Homo sapiens: one gene and its partners. The protein of the gene in region 2 interacts with the protein of the main gene of each other region in a biochemical or structural test. Each region holds a gene or a part of one and is shown on either strand. Other genes may lie near its edges. The genes, in order: FRMPD4, GIPC3, DGKK, SLCO1C1, RASSF6, DGKZ and MAP2K2.

Region 1 (3,500 bases), on a different chromosome or scaffold from region 2:
GCTTCAAACGTTTTATCTGCAGCTTCCTCACTTTTCTCAGCCTTCGCAGAATTTAAGAGAGTTAAGAGTCTTGCTCTGGATTAGGCTTTGGCTTAACGGAATGTTGTGGCTGGTTTGATCTTCTATCCAGACCACTCAAACTTTCTCCATATCAGTAATAAGGCTGTTTCACTTTCTTATCGTTTGTGTGTTTCCTGGAGTAGCACTTTTAATTTCCTTCAAGAGCTTTTCCTTTGTAGTCACAGTTTGGCGAACTGTTTGGCACAAGAGGTCTAGTTTTTGGCCTATCTCAGCTTTCAACATGCCTTCCGTACCAAACTTAATTATTTCTGGCTTTCAATTTAAAGTGAGAGATGTACAACTCTTCCTTTAACTTGAACACTTGCAGGCTACTGTAGGGTTATTAATTGGCCTGATTTCAATATTGTTATGTCTCAAGGAACAGGGGAGCCTGAGGAAAGGGAGAGACATGAGGGAATGGCTAGTTGGTACAGCAGTCAGAACACACACAACATTTATCAATTAAGTTTGCCATCTTATATGTGTGGTTCATGACAGCCCAAAACAATTGCAATAGTAACATCAAACAATTCCAATAGTAACATCAAAGATTACTGATCACACATCACCATAACAGATATAATAATAATAATGAAAAATATGACACAGAAACACGAAATGAGCACATGCTGTTGAAAAAATGGTGCTGACAGATTGCTTGATGTGGAGTTGGCACAAACCTTCAATTTGTAGAAAGTGCAGTATCTATAAAGCACCAATAAACCAGAGTGCAATGAAACAAGGTATCCTTAAATCTACTATAAACCAAGGAGGTTTAATACCAGGGGATTTGCCCTTGAAGAGTTCATAAATGAGACACAGATCAAAACTGGACTCAATTATAATACCATCTATACCAGTCAGCCATTGCCACAACAATGCTGCATAACACAGTGTCATACAAGAATAAGCATCTGTTTTCATGCTCACAGGTTTGCCTGATGGTGCTGGTCCATGTGAATCTAGCTTCTAGGACCAACAGGTTAAACTAGGCAGTTCTTCATATAGCAATGTTAAGAGCTTTTTGCTTTTTTACATTCTTTTTTAGAAACGTACAATACCTTAAAGGCATTCTCCTACCAAAAACTTGTACCAAAACAGATACCCTGTGACTTCTGTCCATATTCCACTGGCCAAAGCAAGTTACTTGGCCAAGCCCAACAGCAATGGGGCAAAGAGGTACCCTCTACCTCTAGGAAGTAGAACTATAATGTCACATGGAAAAGGCTTGGATTCAGGGAAGATTTAAGAATTGGGAACAAAATTACAATCTACCACACAATGAAGAAATGTTGTGAAAAGAGCAGGGCATGACATGTCCAGCACAGATAGGGTACACAGTGGCACTAAACTTCCCAGCTTGCCTCACAGTTACATAGGGTCAGAGTTCTGCCTAATGGAATGAGGGTAGAATGGTATACTTTGATTCTGGGCATAGCCCTTAAAAACCTGTCACCCAATCTTCTACCATTCTCTCCCCTCATCTGTCAGCTGAACACTGATGTGCAGGAAACCTTCGATAGCATACTGAAGATGAGATAGTCCTATCTTACAGGTTCTCAGAATGGCTGAGCATATCAGAGCTCCCCCACACCATCAGGAATGCCTGTTTTGTGTATCAAGCAAACAAGAGATGGGCCACAAAAATTGAGGGATTGATCTGTTAAAGCAGTGAAATTATCTTCGCTAATAAAAGATGTCAGTCGAGCTATTTAACCCAGGATTGGGAGGTTGGAGAAGGTGACATGGAACAACCTTAGATTAAAAGCTGAAATATAAAAGACAGATAGGAATTTTTCAGGTGTAAAGGAGGCAAGATAAAGATTGTTCCAGACAAAATGAAGAGTTTATGCAAAGGCTCAGGGTGTGGCACTTTTTAGGACTTCTAAAAAATTCAACATGGTTAGGGGTAGATGTGTGTGTGTGTGTGTCTCTGTATGTGTGTGTATACACGTGTGTGTTTGGTGTTGAGTAGGAAGTTAAGGCTGGAAAGGAGGAATAACAAGTTCAGAGAAATATGGTTCTCTTTTTCTTTTCTTTTTTTTTTTGAGACAGAGTCTCGTTCTGTTGCCCAGGTTGGAAGCACAGTGGCGCAATCTCAGCTCACTGCAAGCTTCGCCTCCCAGATTCAAGCTATTCTCCTGCCTCAGCCTCCCGAGTAGCTGAGACTACAAGCGCCCGCCACCACGCCCGGCTAATTTTTTTGTATTTTTAGTAGAGACGGGGTTTGACCGTGTTAGCCAGGATGGTCTCGATCTCCTGACCTTGTGATCCGCCCACCTCGGCCTCCCAAAGTGTTGGGATTACAGGCGTGAGCCACCGCGCCCAGCCCGAGAAATACAGTTCTCAAAGGAACCAAGTGAATCAGGCCAAACCCAAAAGGGTAAGGATAAAGAATATGGATTTTCCCCTCAAAAGTATGTAGACGGAGGGGACAGGGAGGATCCAATTTGCACTTTACAAAGCTTCTAAGTTAACCTACAAGTGGTATTGTAAGTGCTGACAGTTTAAGTCCCCCAGAGCGGGGCTGGCAAGGGTGACTGTGTTCAGGGTGAATCTCCAACCATATCCATCCTTCCCCCTGCTAGTAAAGAAGGCTGACACCCAGACTGCCCCAAAGGGAAATTTGAGTACTGGGCAGAGAGATCAAAGAAGAACAGTAAAATACCCATGTAAAGGGCAGAGAGTAAATATTTTAGGCTTTGCAAGCCATGTGGTTTCTGTCACAGCTATCCAACTCTCCCAAGAGCAGCCACAGTATACAAACAAAAGGGCATGGCTGTGTTTAAATAAAACTTTATTTATAAAAATGGTCATAAAGCTTTCTAAAATAAGTAAACACATCAGATGGGTTAAGTTTGCCAGCCCTGGCCCTAGGCCATGAAGCAGGACATCGCCCTGAGCCACAATTCAGTTGGGCATGTTTGGGATTTACACCAAAACTAATTCCAGACTCCACCACTGTATAGCTGAGACTGCTAACTGCTCCTGTACTAGGGTAAAGACCGGTGACTTGGATCGTGAACTTCAAAAGAGACAAATATCCAGGACTCCAGTTACAGGAACCATTGTAAAATCACCATGGTCAGTATGTTATCCAATGTTGAATCAATACAACAGCCTTGAATCAGCCAGATGGCCGCGTGTTCTCCCCCACACCAGTCTCTGACCAGATAAATAACTGTGCCAGTTCAATAGAAAAATACACTCATTCCTACATTCATTAGGAAAATTTTACCATTAATTTTATGAACTTTTGCCTACTGCTTTCTTTGAACCTCATCTTTGTCAGGTAATCATGTTCTTATTTTCAATTAAGCAAATCTCATAAAACTTGTGAAGCCTATAAAAAATAACCAAAATAAAAATTAAAACCCTATAGTAAATTGTAATTGCAGGGAAATTACTTTTCATTTTCAAACTTTGGAAACATTTCTTTC
Region 2 (2,782 bases):
CTCTGAAGCCCAGGCCAGCTCTGAGACGAAGCACATCTCTAGAATCCAGCTGAGCCCTGACAACAAGCCAAACTCTGGAACCCAGACACATTTTAAGACCCAGACCAGCTTGGAGACCAATCCCAGTTCCAGAATCCAGGCTAGCTCGGAGACCAAGCCCTGCTGGAAAACTCAAGCTGACTCTGGAACTCTGGACAGCTCCACGATGCAGCCACACCTGGACACTCGGTCTAGCTCCGGAACCCCAGTTAATTTTGGAACCCATGTGAGATTCATGAAGCAGCCCAGCTCTGGAACCCCAGTCAGCTCAGGATTCAGAGACAGCTCCCAAATCAAATCCTATTCAAGAACTCAGACCAGCTCAGAAACCCAGGTCCACACGGCTGCCCAGTCCAGATCCCAACCCCAGTTGCATCCAAGTGCCCATCCCCATCCTGCAGCCCAGTCCAGCTCCAGTGATGATTCCAGCTCTGAGACTGAGCCCAGCTCTAGAACCTCGCCTAGTGCTACAACCAGGCCCAACTCCAGGATTCAGACCAGCTCTGGAACCCCATCCATCTTGGAAGCAAGACCCAGCTCCAGCACACAGCTTGGTGCCAAGCCCCACTCTCCTTGCACAATGCAGCTCAGCTCTAGAATGCAGTTTACTTCCAGGACCCAGACCAATTTCAAGGCCTGGCCAAGCTCCAGAGCTCAATCCAGCCCAAGCACCGCACCCAGCTCTGGAACTCAGCTCAGTTCTGGAGCACAGGCTGGTTCTGAAATCCCAGCCAGCTCCAAAACACAGACAGCAGCTGAGACCCAGCCAAGTTCCAGAATCCAGCTAAGCTCTGGAGTCCAATCTAGTCCTGGGACCCAGGCCATCGCAGCAATAGAATTAAGCTCCACAGCCCTGTCTAGTTCCGACAGCAGGTCCAGCTCCAGGACCCAGCGCTGCCCAGGAGCTCGACCAGCCTCTGGGACTCAATTCGCCTCTAAAACCCTGCCAGGTTCTAGATACCAGCTCCAGACCACAGCCCCAGACAGCTCTGGTATTCAACTGGACTTTGGGAAGCAGAGCAGTTCTGAAAGTCAGCTTAGCTTTGGAACTCAGCCCAGCTCTGGGACCCAGATAAGCTCAAGAATTCAAGCCAGCTCTGGAAGTCAGCTTAGTTCGGGAACCCAGCTGATTTCCGGAGCCCAACCCAGCTCCAGAACTCAGACTAGTTCTGGAAACCAGCTCAGCTCCGGGACCCAGACCACTGCAAGAATTCAGCTCAGCCCTGGAGCTCATCTTAGCTCCAGAACCCAGTCCAGTCCTGAGACCAGGCTCAGCTCTGAGGCTCAGTCCAGCTCTGGAACCCAGTTCAGTTCTGGGATTCAGTTTGGCTCTGAAACCCAGACCGGCTCAAGAATTCAGCCCGACTCTGGAGCCCAACTTAGTTCCAGAACCCAGTCCAGCTCTGAGACCGGGCTCAGCTCTGAAACCCAGACCGGCTCAAGAATTCAGCCCAGCCCTGGAGCCCACCTTAGTTCTGGAACCCAGCCTGTTTCTGGAACCCAATCCAGTTCCAGAACTCACACCAGTTCAAGAATCTGGCTGAGCCCTGGAAATGGAATCTGCCCACAGACCCCTGGCCTTGACCCTAGAATCCAGCTTGAGGCCCCTGCCCCAGCCCAACCTCAGCCCCCAGGCCCATCCCCCAGAGACCCCACCCCAGCCCCTAGCAAAGACCCCCAGCCTCTGCCTCAGCCCCATGATCAGGTATGTGGCATCCAGGCCAGCCTTGGCCCCATCCCAGGCTTACCCCAAGCCTCCTACCTGGCCCCACAGTCACAGGTCTCCTCAACCCCCCAGAAGCCAGCCGTCTCTCCCAAGCCCCGGGTGGGACCCCAGAAGTCCACCCCACCCACCATATCTGTCACTCCTAGTCCTGCCCCTAGGGCAGCCCTCCTGAGTTCCCAGCTGTCTGAGTCCCCAGCTTTGGCGCCAGCCCTTTGCCCCACTCTGGGGGAGCCAGGAGCCCGCCCTTACCGCGGGGGGCCGTAGCTTGGCTGTGACTTAGCCCTGGTTCATGTGGTTCTCGTCCTCTCCTGTCCCTTCCAGCCTGGGGCCCCCAGAAGCAGCAAGTGACCTTATTTCTCCAGCAGGCGGTGGTAGGGAGTGTGCGGTGGTGAAAACAGGGGCTTCACCGGTCCTGGCTCAGATCCAGGTCCTTGGAGGGAAAAGGAGGGCAGGAGACGGGTTGCACCGCATGTACCCTGAGGGCTCATGGTGAATAAAGGCACCTTCCATCTCTGCAGCCTGGTGTGTCATTTTGGGGGAAGTTTGGGGGAATGCAGAGATGTGGGGCTGGGGGGCTGGCTGAAACTGTGGCAACACTGAATACCTCTTGAGCACCTACTGTGTACCAGGCACTTCATTAAGCACCGCACAGGCATGAGCTTACGTGCCTGCAGGCGACAGGTGCTCCACGAAGACCCAGCCACTGGTCCTTTCTACCAATATTTATTGAGCACGTACTATGTGCAAGGTGCTGTACAGAACACTGTGGTGTTTGAAAGGTTGCTGGGTGAACAAGTGAACAGTGGAGGAAACGGGCATCACTCCACGCTTTTGCATCTCTCTCTCTCTTTCTCTGTTTTATTTATTTACTTATTTACAGATGGAGTCTTACTCTGTCGCCCAGGCTGGAGTGCAGTGGCATGATCTCGGCTCACTGCAACCTCTGCCTCCTGGGTTCAACCAATTCTCCTGCCTCAGCCTTCTGAGTAGCTGGCATTACAGGCGCCCGCCACCATG
Region 3 (3,500 bases), on a different chromosome or scaffold from region 2:
TTTATGCTCTTTAGTCATGGAGGAGTGGTATTTCTTTTGTCCCTCCCTCCCGCACCCCCCGCGCCCCTGCTTCTTGGAATTAAAAATTCTGGAGATTTGGTATAGTCAGGGACCTATCCTTTAATATTTCTTTCTTTTTTTAATTAAAATGTGTGTATCTAGAGGGGAGGATTCGTAAATTTCATTAACTTTTATGATTTTTGAGAATATCTGCCCTTAAAAAGATTTCCTTTTTTTGTTTGTTTTCCTTAATTTCTTTTTTTTTAATTGAAGGGGTGGCAAATAAAGGTTATTATCCTTGGCGAGGTTGAAGATCCTTTAAGAGGATCTCCCTTTCTTTTAGTTCCTTTTTTCAATTTTGTTTGTTTTTTGTTTTTGGGAGAATAATAGGTCTCTTATCTTGTGGTTAGAGGGATGGTATCTTTCTTTGAACTATTTTTAAAAATTGAGATGTAATTTACATACCATAAAATTCATCATCTTAACATACACAATTTTGTGGGTTTTATTGTATCCACAGTGTTGTGCACCCATCACCATTCTCTGATTTTAGAACATTTTAATCACCCTCAAAAGAAACCCTGTACTCTTTAGCCATCATCCCCTTTTCCACCTCCCATATTGCTTCCCTCATTTCCTTTCCATCTCTAAGGATTTGCCTCCTCTGCACATTTTATGTAATCGGGAAAATAATGTCAGGAAGCTTTGATGAGGTTGGGGGACCTTCCCTTTATTTTTGCCCCCTTAATTTTCTCAAGAGATTAAGCATGAGCCATGAAGTCAAATAAAGTTTACAAATTTCATGAATATTTTAAGGTTAGAAATACTGTTTAACTTAAGATGATTTCTCTTTTTTCATCTTAAAATTTTTCTTTGGGGGATATAAGTTCCATGGGCTTTGATGAGGGTGAGGATAACTTCCTTTTAGAAGCTGTTTCTTTTTTTTTCTTAAAATAATTTTCAGAGGAGAGATAAATTTCATTATCTGGGGTCACTGTCCCTTTCTTTTCGTTTTTAAAATTCATAAATTTGTTTTTATTATTTTGAGAATGAGCTCTATTTGCTTTGGTGAGGGTGGGGCATCTCCCTTTAGAATGGCTGCTTGCTTGCTTTTTTTTTTTTCCTTTAAAATTATTTTTTTTCCACTGAAAGAATTACAGTGGGTGGGCTTTGGAAAGGTCGGGCACCCTATCCTTAGCAGGATTTCAATTTATTTCCTTTACAAAACACACACGCACCAACAAAAAAGGTCTTTGTGAGTAATCGGTTCAGGGTCTCTGCCTCTTCTCGTTTCTTCTCTGGCTCCTCTTCTATGCTGGCCCCCTCTGGGAGCATCAGAAGTGGAGCAGCAACCACCGCTTTGGAAAAAAATTCAGAGCTGATGAAATGTCAGCTAAAAGACTGTTCTTAGACAAATGAGGATCCTATGTATCACAAAAGGCCATATGTCAGATTTTTAAAAAAATCTACAATAGAAAATTCAATCATTACATCCTATAAGCTGTCAAGTTTTATTTTTGCCCTCCCCCACCTGCTGCCTTGTTCAAGGAAATAAAAGGGTTAATAATGCAGAGGCAAGCACTCTGTAAACTGTAAAGTGCCACAGGAGCAGAAGGAACTATATAATCCTTATTAGAATACCCCTGAATGGTTTCCTGGTTTCTATGGATATTTTTTTCTTTTTCTTTTTTCTTTTTTTTTTTTTTTTTTTTTTTTGCCTTTCCTTGGAGGCACTTTCCCTTTGGGCTGCAGATCTGCAGAAGCCCTAGTCGGAGATTTTAATAAGTGCATAAGAATTGTACTCTGAGAAACTAAAGACCACTGACCAATACTTCATTATCTTTTCTAGAACACCCTGTAGTGACTGCTTAGGAACTATTAGAATACACCAAATAAATCAGATGGTATCATCAAAGCTTGGCAAGGAGGGGGGAAAAACTGAAGAGAAAAGAAAGTAATTTCATTCTGACCTTCAACAGGTTAAACATCTGAATCTATAATCCCAAATCTGTTTACAGTCACTGCAGATACTCTGTTCACTTAGGAAAAAAATTTATTATCCCCTGAAGCTAACAATATCATTATTAGTCTGCTGCTGCTGGGACTGCATGGGATAAGGACACTTTCCAAGCCATTAATAAAAATTGTTAGTAATTTGCTTCTTAATTATAGTTCCAATAACCACTCTGAAAATGGAAAGATTGACTGTATTTCCTTAAGGGCTATATATTCCATGCCATTTAAATAAGTATTTACTTCTCACTCTGAAACCAATGAGAACAAATTTTTATTCATTCACAGCAGCAGCCTCTACATTGCTGGAAATGGATAGTTTTCAAGCTTCAGCAAGTGTTTATTAAGCAAAATCAAGGAGGGCTGCATTGAACTAGGCACTGAGAAAGGCCACCCCTATTTTTGAGAAGCTCAGAAATCACTAATAAAATATTGATAGGAATCACCAGATATCATATAAACAAATGCTTGCTATTTTGCAAGAAAATGTACAAAAATATCAGTTTTGTGCATAAAAGCTGTCCTGATATGGTTTGAGGATAATGGTTATTACTGTGCAGTCATCAGGAGGGATACACAGACCCCTTTTATCTCCCCCAAAAGCCATGAAAGTGTATCTCCCCTCAGATTTTCATCAATCATTTGTATGATGTGATTTTCATTTCATAGCTGGTCAAAACCCAATGAATAAACAAAATTTTGTCTTTCTTCAAGCACAGCTGATGAGAGAGAAAGAAACATGGTCTACTTCATATAAGCCCCATCCCTCCCCCAAGAGAGTTATAGCATTGCTAAAGAACCAATTCACACATCCTTACTTACACTTGCTGCCACCAGGTGGGAGACCATGGCTCATTTCCTGGGAATTGAAACATTTTAGAAAGGAAAGAAATAGACATGTTTGGTTCACAGACTGACTGTGTTATCCTGGTAGCTATTTGAAAAGAAAACATGAGCCCCCTTTTCTCAGTCAATTGCAGGTTCTGAAACTTTCCTGAAATTCCAAAAAAGAGCAGACTACAAGGCTGAAAGATGTTGGTTTTTTGCTACAATACCAGTCAACAAAATTATCTGGGAGAAACTTGCAGTCATATTCAAACACTTGGTTTTGCTCATTTCATCCTTTGAATTATCAGGATAGTTTCATGCTTGCTATGGAGGATTTCATTGCATGATGAGACCTGTATTTTGTTTTGTTCCCTGACATTTTGGGCACATATGTATAGTATGTGTGTGTGTTAGGGGTGTGTGCACGCCTGTGCGTGTTGCACAGTTTTTTCCCCCCAAGCTTGCCTCGAGGAGGCAGTGTTTGAAAACAACATCACCCCAGCTAAGATGACAACCTGTTTGCCTTGAATGTTAAGATACAAGCCAGCTGGTTGCAGGTGCCATTTGTCTGAGGAAGATGCAGGAGAGAATGATCCTATCACTGAAGATCAGATGTTCCCAGCTGCACCAGAGAGCAATTGCATAGCAACATTGAGGGT
Region 4 (3,500 bases), on a different chromosome or scaffold from region 2:
CTCTAAAATTGAATCATAGTGCTCCCAGGGTGTATTGTTCTTCTGTAAAGATACTTCTACATATTTATAACTCAAAATACCAATTAGCATCTCACCCTTTCCTCCAAGAAAGTCACTTACTCTGATGTAGAACTCTGAATTGTGTGAACCATACAATACCAAACACCTGGGGAGAAAAATTTACTGTTGATTGCTCTGAGAAAATTGCCTCTCCTGTAGAATAAGATCATGGTAAATTCTGTCCAAAAAAAAAAAAAAAGATTTTATGAATAGAGTCTGATCCCAGCAGACAATAGAATGCAGAAGGTGTTCTTTAGCCACACCTAGAAGATCTTGGGCTTAAAATTAAAGTCAGGCATCTGTAATACCTACCAATTTCAAAACTACCATCAATAACTCCCACCAGTGAAGAAGGGATATCAAACCTTCTCTCTATCTGAGTGATGGTGCTCTTCAGATAGCCTTCTGCCAATGCTTTGGCAAAGTAAACAAAAGACAAGGCACACAAGAACACCTGGAAAATATGACAGGTCACACTTAGTCTGACTCCAGCTTGACACACAATTGGAAACTAAGTAAATAGACAAACAAATACAAAACAAACAACAAAGAACAATGTATAATATCAACTTTATTATCACTGAAACTTTAATTCAAACACTGTTCGAGGTTTCCATCAGCCTTAAGCACTGTAAGTTTTCAACAGTTCAAATTCTCTTGGAATTTAAAATATATATTTGGTTTTTATGCGAAATGTGTATTGAATTATCTTTTGTCTTCTTCCACTCTGCTCCAGAGGGGCACTCAAAGGAGTCTTACATTGAAGAGTCAGTGTATGGTGAGACATTCATTGGTAAGAAAGTAAATGAAACCATAAGCCAAACACTTGACATCCTATAACAAGTCCAGCACTTGGGATTATGTATTTCACAGGGTGGTGCATGCACCAGCCGGGAACATAATGTACAGACTGAAAAAGTGCAACTATTATTCCTTGTGTTTATGTTTATACTTATTAAATTCATAGTCAAATATTTTTCTCAATGGAAAACATGTCTTTGATATCTAGCTTATATATTTTGATAGACATGGGTCTGTGATAGAACATTCATAGGGAAGGTTAGCATTTATATGAAAAAAGCAGAGATTTGTTGAGTGAATATTTGTATAAAGAAAGAATAGGAGCACACAAAGCATCCCTTAAGAAACAACTATTCTCGGGGGATTGGGGGAGCGGGGAGGGACAGCATTAGGAGATATACCTAATGTAAATGACGAGTTAACGGGTGCAGCACACCAACATGGCACATGTATACGTATGTAACAAACCTGCACGTGTGCACATGTACCCTAGAACTTAAAGTATAATAATTAAAAAATAATTAAAAAAAAGAAACTTCTATCACTAAATAGCAAAGAAAAATAGCATGATTTTAACAATGGGCAAATAATCTAAATAGACATTACTTAAAAGAAGGCATGGCCAACAGGTATATGAAAAAGGTGCTCAACATCACTAGTCATTATGGAGATGCAAATAAAAATCTTTATGACATATCACTTCACATCTGTTGGCTATAACAAAAAATAAAAACTGGTTAGAATGTAAAGAAAAGGGAATCTTTGTACATGGTTAGTGGTTACATAAGTTGATGTAGTCTCTTTGGAAAATATAATAGTATGGAGGTTCCTCAAAAAACTAAAAACTATTGTTTGATACAACAATCCTAAAAAAAAAAAAAAGCAACTCTTCTCCCTACTCTGTAACATTATTCCCATTTTTATTTGCAAAATGGGAGTAATGTGATGTTTCACAAATTAAATGTTATATCTGTGCTTGGCTTAATATCTGGCACATGGCAGAAGTTCAATAAATACTAGTTTCTACTATTTCTCTCTTTTCTGTTTGGGGGGGCATTTAAATGAGCCCAGGAAAGTAATTTAACCCACATGGTCAGGTAGAGATTGCTTGCACCGCCTGGCAAGGTGTGGTTTTAGTAAATTGCATCTAAGATCTTTTTTTTTTTTTAAAGGAGAAAACAATTCTCATTCTAACTTCATTATATAGATGATATCTGGACAGAAAACTAAGAGCATCAACACTATTTACTTCTTGGTTGCTCTACCTTTAGTTCACCACAGCATGGTTGCTTTTCTTCTGAGGAGGGATATTCTGTTTTAAAAGAAGGCCTTCCAACAGGTTGCACTGAAGTTTTGCAGAACAACTGGATATTTTCTTTGGATGAAGTGTCCATTATAAACACATTCCTTGACTCTGATCTGTCAAAGTTAGTTTTTAAAGTAAAAATAAATAAATACTACGCAATTTATTAAATTTTTTTATTCAACAGTATACCACAATTCTATAGACGCAATTTAAAGTGAATCTACCTTTTGTTGTCACAGTAAGTTGGCAAATGTTTTCAATTAAAATCAACCAGGATATCTGATTAACTAATCCTGCTATTGGAACTCTGTAGCCAGCATTCTTTCTCAATCTGCCCAGTTTAAGCCTCATTATGGCAAAGAATAAATTTAAGTGTTGCCTTTGGAATAAATAATGAGGCAGAATTTTGCTAACTTTGTGGTCTTGCCAGTTTAAACTAGGAGCAAGCAGGAAAGGAAGAAGAGGAATTCAACTATTTGAATATTGATTCATTAGGATAAAGTCTTTAAAGCCTTTAAATCTATCTTCTTAGCAAAACAAATAGAAGTTTTACATTCATTATAGGTCCCTGTACCACCTTATGATTCCTGTAGCACCCAATGTGAGCCTTAAAATATGACAAAAAAGAAGAGGTCCAATTTGTGTATTGTTTTTGTTTGATAAATAAGGGAGCAACATGATTTGTGCCTTAGATTTAATTCAGGTGAAAGAACAGTCTTTGATCAGCCTTAAAGTAAAAAAGACAGCCTTGCTTCCCATGCTCAATTTCCCACCGCCCCTCACAGGACAGGATCACACACTGAACCTATTTTCTCCCTGTTCACATCAATATTTACATATCCTGTGCCCCTACTTCTTTAGGATTCCACATGGCTCAGTGCCTGCCTGATAATCTAACCTAAATCAAGGAATTCAACAAACAAAGTATTTCTCAATCTCCCTAATATTATCAGATGACCCAATTGTACATTAATAGAGGACTTCTATATCCACATAATAGGAGTGGAATAATGTTATTCCTAAAGGAATAATGTTAGGAGTCAAATTTCATGTATTGTGGCAGAAATCTATTCTGACTGAGTATATCACCTTGACTTTATGCAATGCTTGTTTTGTGTTCACTAAACCTCATCCCTCACCATTTCAATTCATACTTTCTCAAACTGAAAAATCAAGTAATAGTATAAACGATTTGCTTTGTATTAATAATATGAAGTTAAAACATCAGAGGACTTCAACAATTTAAAAATTAAGTGGATTCCTCTAGGGAGTGGGAATTGACTAAAGGAAAGGATGAGACAAGGGTCTGGTTTCAAAAAAATTATTATTAGGC
Region 5 (3,500 bases), on a different chromosome or scaffold from region 2:
TTGCATTTTTAGTTTCTGTTTTTCATTGGTATTGACTTTTCCATTCCTAACCCCCCTTCTACGATAATTATGTCTGCCACTTTCTGATTATTAAGCTGCTATAGATTTGGGGAAATGGGTAATTTTATCTGCCATAAGACTAATTAGATTCTGAGTCAGGACCTGGTAGTTTTCCTTTGAGTTAAAGTTATTACCTGTAGTTGGGCTTTATGACATTTGTTTTGATTGGCTGTATTCTGAATAGTACAGCTTGCTGGAAAATTAACAAATATATTAGGATTACCTTCTCTACATCATAAGGCTATTGTGAGACTCAAATGATATAGTAGCCATAAAACACGCTTCAAAAGAATTCAAAAGTAAAGAGGATAAGGGATGACTTTCTTCATATTCACTACCATTAGTATTAATAAATATTTTTTGTTGCCACCAATGAAATTCGGGCAGAGTCAATGCCATAAATTCCCTATAAGTGAATATATTTTAGTCATAAGAAAAACAGACATTACTGAAGAGATTCTTAGATAATAGCAACCATTTGCCTAGAGAGATCCAGGAACACCTTGGGTCCCTAATGGTTCCTGGCCCATCAGGAATGAAATAGATACAGATGCTGGTGATGATGATGATGATGATGATGATGATGATGATGACAATGGAGATGAGGATAATTATAATTATTGTTAATCTATATTGAATGCTTACTATTTTCAGGGCACTGATTCAAGAATTTTATACAAATTAACTCTTTTAATCCTCAAAACAACCCTATCCTACCTCATGCTATTATCATTTTTATTTTACAGATGAGGACACAGGCACAGAGGGGATAAGAAACTTGTTTAAGACCAGATAAATAAAATAAAATTGAGTTTTGACCTGCCGTAAAAATAAACATTTGTCAGGTTTCATGTATTCTGAGCACTAGAATGCACTTAAAATTGCTAGTTTCTTTATGAAATCATAATTTTCTGGCAAAATTCTCATACATTTTCCTCCTTCGTAAACTACATTCTTCATGGTAGTCAAGGGCCTTAAACGATAGGCACTATATTTTATTATTTTAGAGCCACTCTACCTAACAATGTTTTGAATGCAAAAGGTACAATACATATTGACAGAATGTATAAAGAACACTTTTATACCCAAGCTCCCCTAAGAGTATTGTGAAATATCTTTATAACAATTGATCATCTTGGTTTCTACTAATTCAATTTGGACATATGTTTTACAGAATCTATATAACTTGTGTTTCAGTATGTAACTGAATTATTACGTCAAAAAGATATGCTCTATAAAAGTACAGGAAGCATTTAAAACATATATTGACCACTTTGGTATGAATATAATTTTAATAATATCATAAAATTGTTATAACTTTGGACAATATATCCACCTACAGAGGCCCACAGTATTACTATATTAATATTGTAAATCTGGAAACCATCATAGGCTTCAATATAAATGGAACTGATGTACTTACAAGATTTATTACTTCTCAGAATGACACGCTGGGGGGAATTTGACGATCTCTATCGTATTAGTGAGCTGGACAGGACCCAGATTCCTATGTCTGAAAAAAGGAATTCCCAGGAAGGTCAGTATCAAAATCTTATTGATTGGGAGACTTAATTTTTAATTAGTGTAAAGTATGACTCCATATGTTTCTCTGAAATCTAACCTTTTTCATACTACTACACAATAAACTCTTGTTTTATATGTATATATATTTTTAAATATCTTAGGAGCATAGTAACTTAAGTCACTATAGTGCTTGTATGATGTTTAAGAACCTTACTTTGGTATATAAAAATATAATTCTTAAAAAAATTATATTATGTCACTTAGATTTATTAGAATAGGGAGAGCTAATAGTTTTAATAAAGTTTGTATTCATAAAATTGTTAAATATCTTCCCCAAAGATTAGAGTCATTTATTATTCCCAATAGCTTTATATGTTAGGCCAAGCCCATCAGACCTAATTCTGTATCTTTTTAGAAGTTGAACGTTTTAGTTAGTTAATAGATATGTCAATAACATTACTTCTCAGAAAGACACAGATATGCTGGAGTCAATTTTATATTTGATAGAGTTATTTCAGAGATCTTTTTAAAAGAGAAATATACTTAAGGATCAAATGGATCCATACTGAACTTGGCAAACCAATGGGAAATGCCAGCTCCAGGGATGTGTGACATTAGTAGTTATAATCATAATGGTGATGATGTGAGAGTAATAATAGTGATATTGATAGCTGTAATCTGATGAGACTCTGGTAAGTATCAGGCATAATATTTTGTACTTTATATGAATTTTTTCATGTAATTCTCATAAACACATAAGATTCAAAGAGTAGTGGATGCTGATGACTGAAGCTAGAATGAGGGGTGGTGGACAGGGTTCATGTGCCTGAAATGGGGCTGTGATTTACGAAGTCAGTTCAGTGTGAACAAAGGTATCCCACTAGCATTAACTTCATAAGCCTACCAGCAACTTGCAATGTTTGTTCTCTTTTTTTTTTTTTCAAATCATTCTCAATTCTGCCTCGTCTGCTATTCCACAGGAACCCAGATCCTGTGACAAACATGATGTTCCTTCCAGGGTTCCCTTTTCTCTTTATGCCATGGGATCTTTACATCTTGTTAAATATCGGCCCTTCCAATTATCTTTTAGAAATATATATGAAACCCAAGGAAATCCCAGTATCTTGGCATCAAAGACATCATAAAAATATATTTGTATTTAAACAGCAGTGCTAGAGAAGGAAGAAATATCTCATGCCTATTTGATAATGTTCTAATTACAGTAGAAAATTTTTTAAAATCCTAAAGTAAAATAAAACACAAATGCCACCACATGGTCTTATTCTTACATATGAATATGCATAGGAGAGGAAATTGAAAAAGGTACTATCAATTGTATACAAGCAGAAAGGGGGGCAGAAGGCAGGTTTGAATCTTCTGCATCTTAGGCTAGTAACACATTGTAGCTCAATTCAATTCCATTTAAACACCTTCTGCCTACTCAATAGATACTAGAGTTGTTCAACGCTACACTATAATTTTATACTCTAAAATCTGCTATAGAAATTGTAATAATTCAGTAACCAAATTTTGACTAATCAATTATGAATCATTGTTAAATATACATGACTCAATGAGAAGAAATAATAGGATAGTGGACAACTAAGTGAAAAAGTCATTCATATCATACATCTGGAATGTTCTAAAAAGAACATAATGTGATATATTACAAATAGTAGGACTAGTCCAAAGCATACTATTCCTTTTGCTTTTATAAAAGATGGGAACAAAATCTTTCAATGCTCCACATACCATATAAATAGCTTCTCAAAGAGCTTTCTGTAGTTTTATAGGAAAACTAAGGCCCAGTGTTTATTTTTTAGGAAAAGCTCCAAAGAACTTGGGCCAACATATAATGGGGTGGGGGGAGGGGGGAGGGATAGCATTAGGAGATATACCTAATGCTAAATGACGAG
Region 6 (3,500 bases), on a different chromosome or scaffold from region 2:
CAGCGGGACCGTGTTCAGACTCGGGGACCCAAACCCAGCAGTGCAGGGCCTGGCCCTGGGGGCGGGGGCACCACTCACTGCCTGCTTGCACCACGAGCAGCTGATGGCCACAATCTCCTTGCTGTGGAAGGTGAACTTCTGCTGGAATCCCTGAGGGTAGACAGGATGGATGGGAACCAGGGCAGGCGTGGAGCAGCAGACCCAGCCCCTCTCCTGGTGCCAGCCTCTCTCCACCCAGAGACAGGGCCTCGCTATGTTGCCCAGGCTGGTCTCAAACTCCTGGGCTTAAGCAATCTGCCTCAGCCCCCCCAAGTAACTGGGAACAACAGGCATGTGCCACCATGCCCAGCTTTGAACACATTTTTTGTTTTTGTTTGGAGATGGAGTCTCGCTCTTGTTGCCCAGGCTGGAGTGCAGTGGCGTGATCTTGGCTCACTGCAACCTCCACCTTCCAGGTTCAAGCGATTCTCTTGTCTCAGCCTCCTGAGTGGCCGGGATTACAGGCGCCCACCACTACGCCCAGCTAATTTTTTGTATTTTCAGTAGAGACAGGGTTTCACCATGTTAGCCAGGCTGGTCTCGAATTCCTGACCTCAGGTGATCCACCCACCTCAGCCTCCCAAAGTGCTGGGATTACAGGCGTGAGCCACCACACCCAGTCTGAACACATTTTTTAAAATAAAAAAAAATATGTATAAGATAAGCCTGAAGAGCAGGGTGGCTTAGCCCGGGCCCCCTGACTCCCTGAAGTTACCTGCACGGCACCACATGCATACCCGTTCTGCCACACTGCAGGCTAACTCCTGCCTCACTCGGATTTTCCCTCCTTCCTACCCCCGAGGCCTGACCAGACCCCCATGTGCTGTTAAAGAAATTTACTGCCGCTTCCGAGTACCTATCACATTCATTCCCTGTTCATCACACAGGCTGTTATGAAAGGCCTGCAGTGGGCCAGGCGCTGAGAATCAGTGAAGCAAGCCTCTCCATCTTTGAGAGCCTGCACTTACTGAGGGAGGCGGGCAAGAAGCAAACAAGAAAGTGAACCAAACAACTGTGGACTGGGTTAGGCGGTCGCCTGGAAAGCCTGGCTTCAAGCCACACTGTCCTCAGGAGGGTGGGAAACCGCTGCCCAGCTTGGCGCTCGGCACACAAGTATCCATGGAGTCACCGAATGAGTAAGTCTATACGATTCTCCAAAGGGCCACTTGCAGCTTCAAAGCAGGCCAGGTGTGCCACATGGGAAGAAAACTTTCCTCCCTGCTCTCCTACTAAGCCCAGAGACCAAGAGCAGGCCAGGGTGCTTGAGAACTGAAGGCACTGCAGCCAGGCTGAGGGTCAGCCCCGGACTCTGCACACCAGGGTGTGGTCAGTGATCGGCAGGCCACACCGGCCACATGGCCTGGGCTCAGGACCGCAGGTGCAGGTGGCGATGTCCTCGGGCAGGGCCTCTCACCTTCCCACAGTGCCGACACTTGCCGTCCTGGCGTCGTCTGTGTACCCAGTGGTGCCGTACAAAGGTTGGCTGGGGGAGAAGGGGAAAAATTTCACTGGGTGAGGGGTGGGCAGGGGCACAGTCCTGAGGACTGCCCACACGGCTCAACACACGGGGCTGCAGGAAGCGCTCTGCAGTCCTGCGCATGAGTGGAGGAGGGGCTAAAGACTCTCTTCATGGCCTGGGGGAGGCTCAGACTCAGAGGGACAGAGAAGGCTGGGAAGCACCAGGAGGCACAAGCTGTCCCACCCACTCCGCAGGCAGCGCTAGTTAGGCCTCCGCATGGCAGACCTCAGACAGACCTCAGTGAGCAGCAGCCTAGAGGGAGCCGAGCCCCCTGGTGGCACTCCAGAGGCACTGCGCAGAGGCCCATGCAGGAATCTTAGGGTGGCCCCATCCCTGACCACCCTGGGCACTTACCTCGCGGACATTCCTGGAGCCTGATTCACGGAAGGACGGCTTACAGCGGAAATTTATCTGTGAAACATGGCAGTGACCACCAAAATGTCAGAACCTCCCTTCGGGGTCAGGTATGTGGTCACTCCCTCCAGGACAACCCAGAGTCATCCTCACAAGGTGGGGATACCCCCAAATCGTCACGAGAGTCCTTGAAACACGAGACACCTCCTGTGAGAAGCCCTCCTGCCTCTCTGCCTCCTCCTCACTAGCCAGAGGGATCTTTCCTTCTTCCACCCAGGACCCAGGATGAGGGGGAGGTTGGGAGCTTTGGGTCCGTCTCCCCCACTAACATGGGACCATGGTTTGCTCGTTGTTTTTTTTTTGTTTTTGTTTTTTGAGACAGAGTCTCGCTCTGTTGCCCAGGCTGGAGTGCAGTGGTGCGATCTCGGCTCACTGCAACCTCCACCTCCCGAGTAGCTGGGATTACAGGTGTGCATCACCACGCCTGGCTAATTTTTGTGATTTTTAGTAGAGATGGGGTTTCACCATGTTGGCCAGGCTGGTCTCAAACTCCTGACCTCAGGGTGATCCACCTACCTCGGCCTCCCAAAGTGCTGGGATTACAGGCATGAGCCACCGCACTCGGCCGCATCCTTTCTTCCTCGCCCTCTGGCACTCCCGACCCGGGCACACGCAGCCAGCCTGGTCCTCACACGCAGACTTGCACTGCCTGGCCCCTGGAGACCTTTAGCTAATTTGTGGAACCCTAGGTCGATTTCCACCTTAAATGATGAGTGTACAGTGCTTGGGGCTGCATTTCTATTTCCCTTCTCATAACTGTCCCTACTTCAGCCTTATTAGAGGTATAAGGAAGCCTCACTTTACAATTCAGAGGCTGGGGAAAGCAGCCTGTGTGAGCCTGCCTGAACCACTCCTAGTCTTACAGTCTCTCCCGTATGATGGCCTGGGTTTCTGCAGGCTGGGAAGCGCTGCCCCTCCATGCGAACCCTTCTGCCCCTGGCCTTGACCCGTCTGCCCAGTGCTGCCTCCACCTCTAGAAGCACAGTGCCCAGACATGCCCCCAGCTGCAAATGCACAGTGGACAATGGCCCTTGGGGAAAGGTCTCCACAGAGGCAGGGTGTAGCCACAGCTGAGTTATGAAGCTTCAGCAAATCAATGGCCTCTTCTAAGCACTAGTTTGGACATGGTGAAATGGTACAAGGGCCACCATTCGTCAATTCATTCCATTGAGTGATATTCAACGAACCCACTAGGCGCCAGGTTTGTTCCAGGCAGTGGGGATACAGCAGCTAATCAGTGAGGAGCCAGGATTCGAACGCAGGCATTTGGCTCCAGGGTCCTTGACTCTTCACCCCCGAGTGCTGGGTCACTCCTGGCAGGCCGTTTGTATAACATGTGGGTGTGAGTGCGCGCTGAAAGGGCCTCAGCACCCAAAGGGCAGGGGCGGGCAAAGCTGAGCTACCCACCCACCTTCTCCAGCTGCTCGATGCAGGGCGTGTGCACCACAATCTTGCAGGCTGCGCACTTTCTTCGAGACACTGACTTCTGCTGCAGGACAGGAAGAGAGGGCCCCTGAGGCACCAGGTA
Region 7 (3,500 bases), 500 kb from region 2:
CAGGAGAATTCCCTGAACCTGGGAGGCGGAGGTTGCAGTGAGCCGAGATCGTACCACTGCACTCCAACCTGGGTGACAAGAGTGAGACTTCATCTTTGCGGGGAAAAACAAAACCCACACACAAAAACTAGCTGGGCTTGGTGGCACACATCGGTAGCCCCAGCTGCTCAGGAGGCTGAGTGGGAGGATCACTTGAGCACGGGAGTTGGGGCTACAGTGAGCTACAATCGCACCACTGCATTCCAGCCTGGGGGACAGAGCAAGGCTGTATCTCAAAAATTTTTTTGACCAGGTGCGGTGGCTCACATCTGTAATCTCTGCACTTTGGGAGGCTGAGGCAGGTGGATCACCTGAGGTCAGGAGTTTGAGGCCAGCCTGGACAACATGGTGAAAGCCTGTTTCTACTAAAAATACAAAAATTAGCCGGGTGTGGTGGCGGGTGCCTGTAATCGTAGCTACCTGGGAGGCTGACTGGAGAATTGTGTGAGCCTGGGAGGCTGAGACTGCAGTGAGCTGAGATTGCTTCACTGCACTCCAGTCTGGGCGACAGAGTGAGACTCTGTCCGACTCTCAAGAAAAAAACAAAACTGAAAGCCACATTCCAGTATTAGAAGGCACCCGGTTGGGTGTCTGTAGCTGGCATCTCTTCTTTTCTTACAGGCACAGAAAGTAACGGGCTGTCTAGGGGGGTGGCATCTCCAATCCGCCAATCAGCTGTCGAGGGGTTTGAAGGTCGCTGACGGTGGCTGTGGTATGGGAAAGCACTCGGGATGCAGGCTGGGCTGAGGGCAGGAGGATGATGCCCGGGGCCCTCCTCTGAGGGTGTAGTCCCCGCTGGGGAGGCGAGTTTTGGTGAACAGCTGGGCTTCCGAGGATATCAGAGGATGGGGGTTTAAGGGGACACCGAAGTACGCACGGCCTCGGGGGACCTGCTTGCCAGTGTGCAGAACAGGGATGGTCACCCTCTAGTTTGCAGGGAAAGGAGCCTGGGGGGCTGAGAGCTGCCTCCAGCCTCTCATGAGGGCAAAGAAGCCCGGGGTCTCATCCTGTGGGTGCGGGACCAGCACCAGGCAGGAGCGGCGGAGCTCAGAGCCCAGAGCTGTTCCCACGCACACACCCTCTGCTCCCCGCAGCCAGCCCAGGATGGCTTCTCTCATGGATGAGAGAGACCCACAGAGGGTCCTCGGCGTGGCCTGGCACACCCGGCCTGCCCACATCCTGGTCGCAGGTGCTGGCTCCCCGGGCAGGGCCAGGCCCAGCAGCCTTATTTCCTGGGGCCTGGGTGGCAGCCTGCACCCTCCCGGTCCCAGAACCCGCTGGCATCACTCACTGTGAGCATCTTCAGGTCCGCCCGCTCCGCTGGGTTCTTGATGAGGCTGGGGGTTCCAAGAGGCAGGACCGGGAGGCGGTGGAGGAGACAAGACAGGGCAGTCAGCTGGTGGCCCCGGGGCACCCGCGTGTGGGCCGTGGTCGGAGGGGGCCTGGATCTCTCCGACCAGAGAGAGTGGCACAGAGTGGCTGCTCTGTTCTGCCTCCTGGCAGAGGACGAGGGATCCACCTCTGCACTTTGGTGCCAGGGGCAGGACACCCCCCAGCGGGAGGGTGAGAGGGAAAGAGGGTGGGAAACCCCGCCTGGTGGGTCAGAAGCCTGGACGCAACCCCAGCTAACTGTCTAATAAAACCCCAGGCCCGGGGCAACATCGCCGGAGCGCACGCCAAGGGCCCGGGGCAACTCCGGCACCAGGAGTGCGGTGCCGTTCCACGGCGTCCCGAGCTCACACACATGGACCGGCCCTGTGGGCAGCGGGGTGTCCGCAGCTCCTTCCCCGTGGTCTGCGGCACATGCCTGTGAAGCCCACGCCACAGGTGCTGCTGGGTGCTTGGGGGCAGGAGAATGGAGTGGGGCTGGCGACCCTCCCAGAACCTGCGGGCGGATCCCGGGGAGCCCACAGTCAGCACACCAGGGGTCCGGGGACCAGACAGAGGCTTCTCCTGCTGCAGACAGTGAGCTGGGGACACCGTCATGTGCACAGGGCCTGCAATCCTGCTTCACCCCTGGGCTCACGGACAGGATGGCATGGCAGCCGGGAGCTGCAGCCCCACAGCTCTGGGAAAAGGAATCTGGCTTCCCGTTGGGCTGAGTCCTGCCTAACGCTGCACTGGGATTCTGGATGGGCAGGCTGGGCCACGGGCCCCACCCAGGACCCGGAAGGAGTGGCACATCTGGGTCCCGGCCAGGGGTGTGGGCAGCCCGGCTCCACCTACCATTTATTGACAAACTCCTGGAAGTCGGGGGTGAACACACCGTTGGGCAGCTTAGGAGGTGGCTGTGGAGGAGAACAGAGGGTGGGGTCAGCCCTGGGCATCGTCAGGGACCCTCGGCTGCAGCCCTCTCTACCCCTCACTGTCCTGTCCGGTCACCCACCCTGCAGGCCTGGCCGACACCACATGCCAACTGGGCTGCACCCTGTCAGAGGTGGCCTTCTCCCGAAAGCTCTCGTTTGAGAGTCACGGCTGCTTAGAGGGAAAGAGTGGGGTGCGTCCCCCTTTTATCAACAGGACAACCTCTCGAGTGTCGTCACTTGCTTCCTTCCCCAGTGTCACTGGCTGAAGGATGAGCTTTGGGACTGGGCCCCACAGAGGGACATCTGGATCCAAAGTTATTTTGTTTTGAGACAGTCTCGCTCTGTTGCCCAGGCTGGAGTGCAATGGCGTGATCTTGGCTCACTGCAGCCTCCACCTCCGGGGTTCAAGGGATTCTCCAGCCTCAGCCTCCTGAGTAGCTGGGATGACAGGTGCCCACCACTGCGCCTGGCTAATTTTTATATTTTTAGTAGAGACGGTATTTCACCAGGTTGGCCAGGCTGGTCTCGAACTCCTGACCTCAGGTGATCCACCCACTGTGGCCTCCCAAAGTGCTGGAATTACACACCTGAGCCACCGTGCCCGGCCAAACTGGGTCCACAGTTTTAAGCCCAAGCACTGGGGAGCCTGGCCTGACACACGTCCCCGGAGCGGGAGTGGCCGTGTAAGCGGTGCCAGCAGGGCAGGGGCAGGCCTTTCCCGCGCAGGGGCAGGGGCGGGAAGAGGCGGGGGAGAGGTCGGGGGATGTGCTCACTGGGCATGGGTGTGGCTGCTAGGTGCAGGGAGAGCTGGGTCACCAGGGCCACCCCACCTGGCTCCGTCATCATCTCGCCACCCAACCCCAGGCCTAGCCCAGTCTGCAGGCAGCTCAAATGCCCGTTTCTCTGCCCCAGCTCCAAAGGGCCACCAAAGACACAGAAACCCACAGAAGGCCCAGGGAGGTGGCCCGGCCTGGTCACGTGGCCAACAGGACCTTGGGGTGCAGTCCTGTGCCTCCCTGACAGCTGCAGGCCTGGAAGGAGGCCGCGTCCCTCCTTGTGCCTTGTTTTACTCATCTGGGCGGTGGAAACCCTCATACTGTGGCTCACTGGGTTGTTATGGGGACTGACGGAGCAGGAGCCACCCCGGGACCTACA

What was found.
Region 1: the proteins of GIPC3 (region 2) and FRMPD4 interact in a test that uses a peptide from one of them, tested with the Homo sapiens proteins (one large-scale study listed by IntAct).
Region 3: the proteins of GIPC3 (region 2) and DGKK interact in a test that uses a peptide from one of them, tested with the Homo sapiens proteins (one large-scale study listed by IntAct).
Region 4: the proteins of GIPC3 (region 2) and SLCO1C1 interact in a test that uses a peptide from one of them, tested with the Homo sapiens proteins (one large-scale study listed by IntAct).
Region 5: the proteins of GIPC3 (region 2) and RASSF6 interact in a test that uses a peptide from one of them, tested with the Homo sapiens proteins (one large-scale study listed by IntAct).
Region 6: the proteins of GIPC3 (region 2) and DGKZ interact in a test that uses a peptide from one of them, tested with the Homo sapiens proteins (one large-scale study listed by IntAct).
Region 7: the proteins of GIPC3 (region 2) and MAP2K2 interact in a test that uses a peptide from one of them, tested with the Homo sapiens proteins (one large-scale study listed by IntAct).

Annotation. Positions count from the first base shown.
Region 1 is NC_000023.11:12,144,973-12,148,472, reverse strand, and holds part of FRMPD4 (FERM and PDZ domain-containing protein 4), read right to left. Parts: intron 1-3,500. UniProt on the Homo sapiens protein: Positive regulator of dendritic spine morphogenesis and density. Required for the maintenance of excitatory synaptic transmission. Binds phosphatidylinositol 4,5-bisphosphate.
Region 2 is NC_000019.10:3,591,260-3,594,041, forward strand, and holds the end of GIPC3 (PDZ domain-containing protein GIPC3), read left to right. Parts: coding exon of another isoform or gene 1-2,029; 3' UTR 2,030-2,282; downstream 2,283-2,782.
Region 3 is NC_000023.11:50,464,326-50,467,825, forward strand, and holds part of DGKK (diacylglycerol kinase kappa), read right to left. Parts: intron 1-3,500. UniProt on the Homo sapiens protein: Diacylglycerol kinase that converts diacylglycerol/DAG into phosphatidic acid/phosphatidate/PA and regulates the respective levels of these two bioactive lipids.
Region 4 is NC_000012.12:20,698,332-20,701,831, reverse strand, and holds part of SLCO1C1 (solute carrier organic anion transporter family member 1C1), read right to left. Parts: intron 2,281-3,500; 5' UTR 2,256-2,280; coding exon 2,127-2,255; intron 515-2,126; coding exon 373-514; intron 1-372. UniProt on the Homo sapiens protein: Mediates the Na(+)-independent high affinity transport of organic anions such as the thyroid hormones L-thyroxine (T4), L-thyroxine sulfate (T4S), and 3,3',5'-triiodo-L-thyronine (reverse T3, rT3) at the plasma membrane.
Region 5 is NC_000004.12:73,585,937-73,589,436, reverse strand, and holds part of RASSF6 (ras association domain-containing protein 6), read left to right. Parts: intron 1-1,502; coding exon 1,503-1,597; intron 1,598-3,500.
Region 6 is NC_000011.10:46,367,963-46,371,462, reverse strand, and holds part of DGKZ (diacylglycerol kinase zeta), read right to left. Parts: intron 3,462-3,500; coding exon of another isoform or gene 3,459-3,461; coding exon 3,384-3,458; intron 1,970-3,383; coding exon 1,913-1,969; intron 1,523-1,912; coding exon 1,454-1,522; intron 151-1,453; coding exon 79-150; intron 1-78. UniProt on the Homo sapiens protein: Diacylglycerol kinase that converts diacylglycerol/DAG into phosphatidic acid/phosphatidate/PA and regulates the respective levels of these two bioactive lipids.
Region 7 is NC_000019.10:4,093,123-4,096,622, forward strand, and holds part of MAP2K2 (dual specificity mitogen-activated protein kinase kinase 2), read right to left. Parts: intron 2,328-3,500; coding exon 2,266-2,327; intron 1,377-2,265; coding exon 1,331-1,376; intron 1-1,330. UniProt on the Homo sapiens protein: Catalyzes the concomitant phosphorylation of a threonine and a tyrosine residue in a Thr-Glu-Tyr sequence located in MAP kinases. Activates the ERK1 and ERK2 MAP kinases.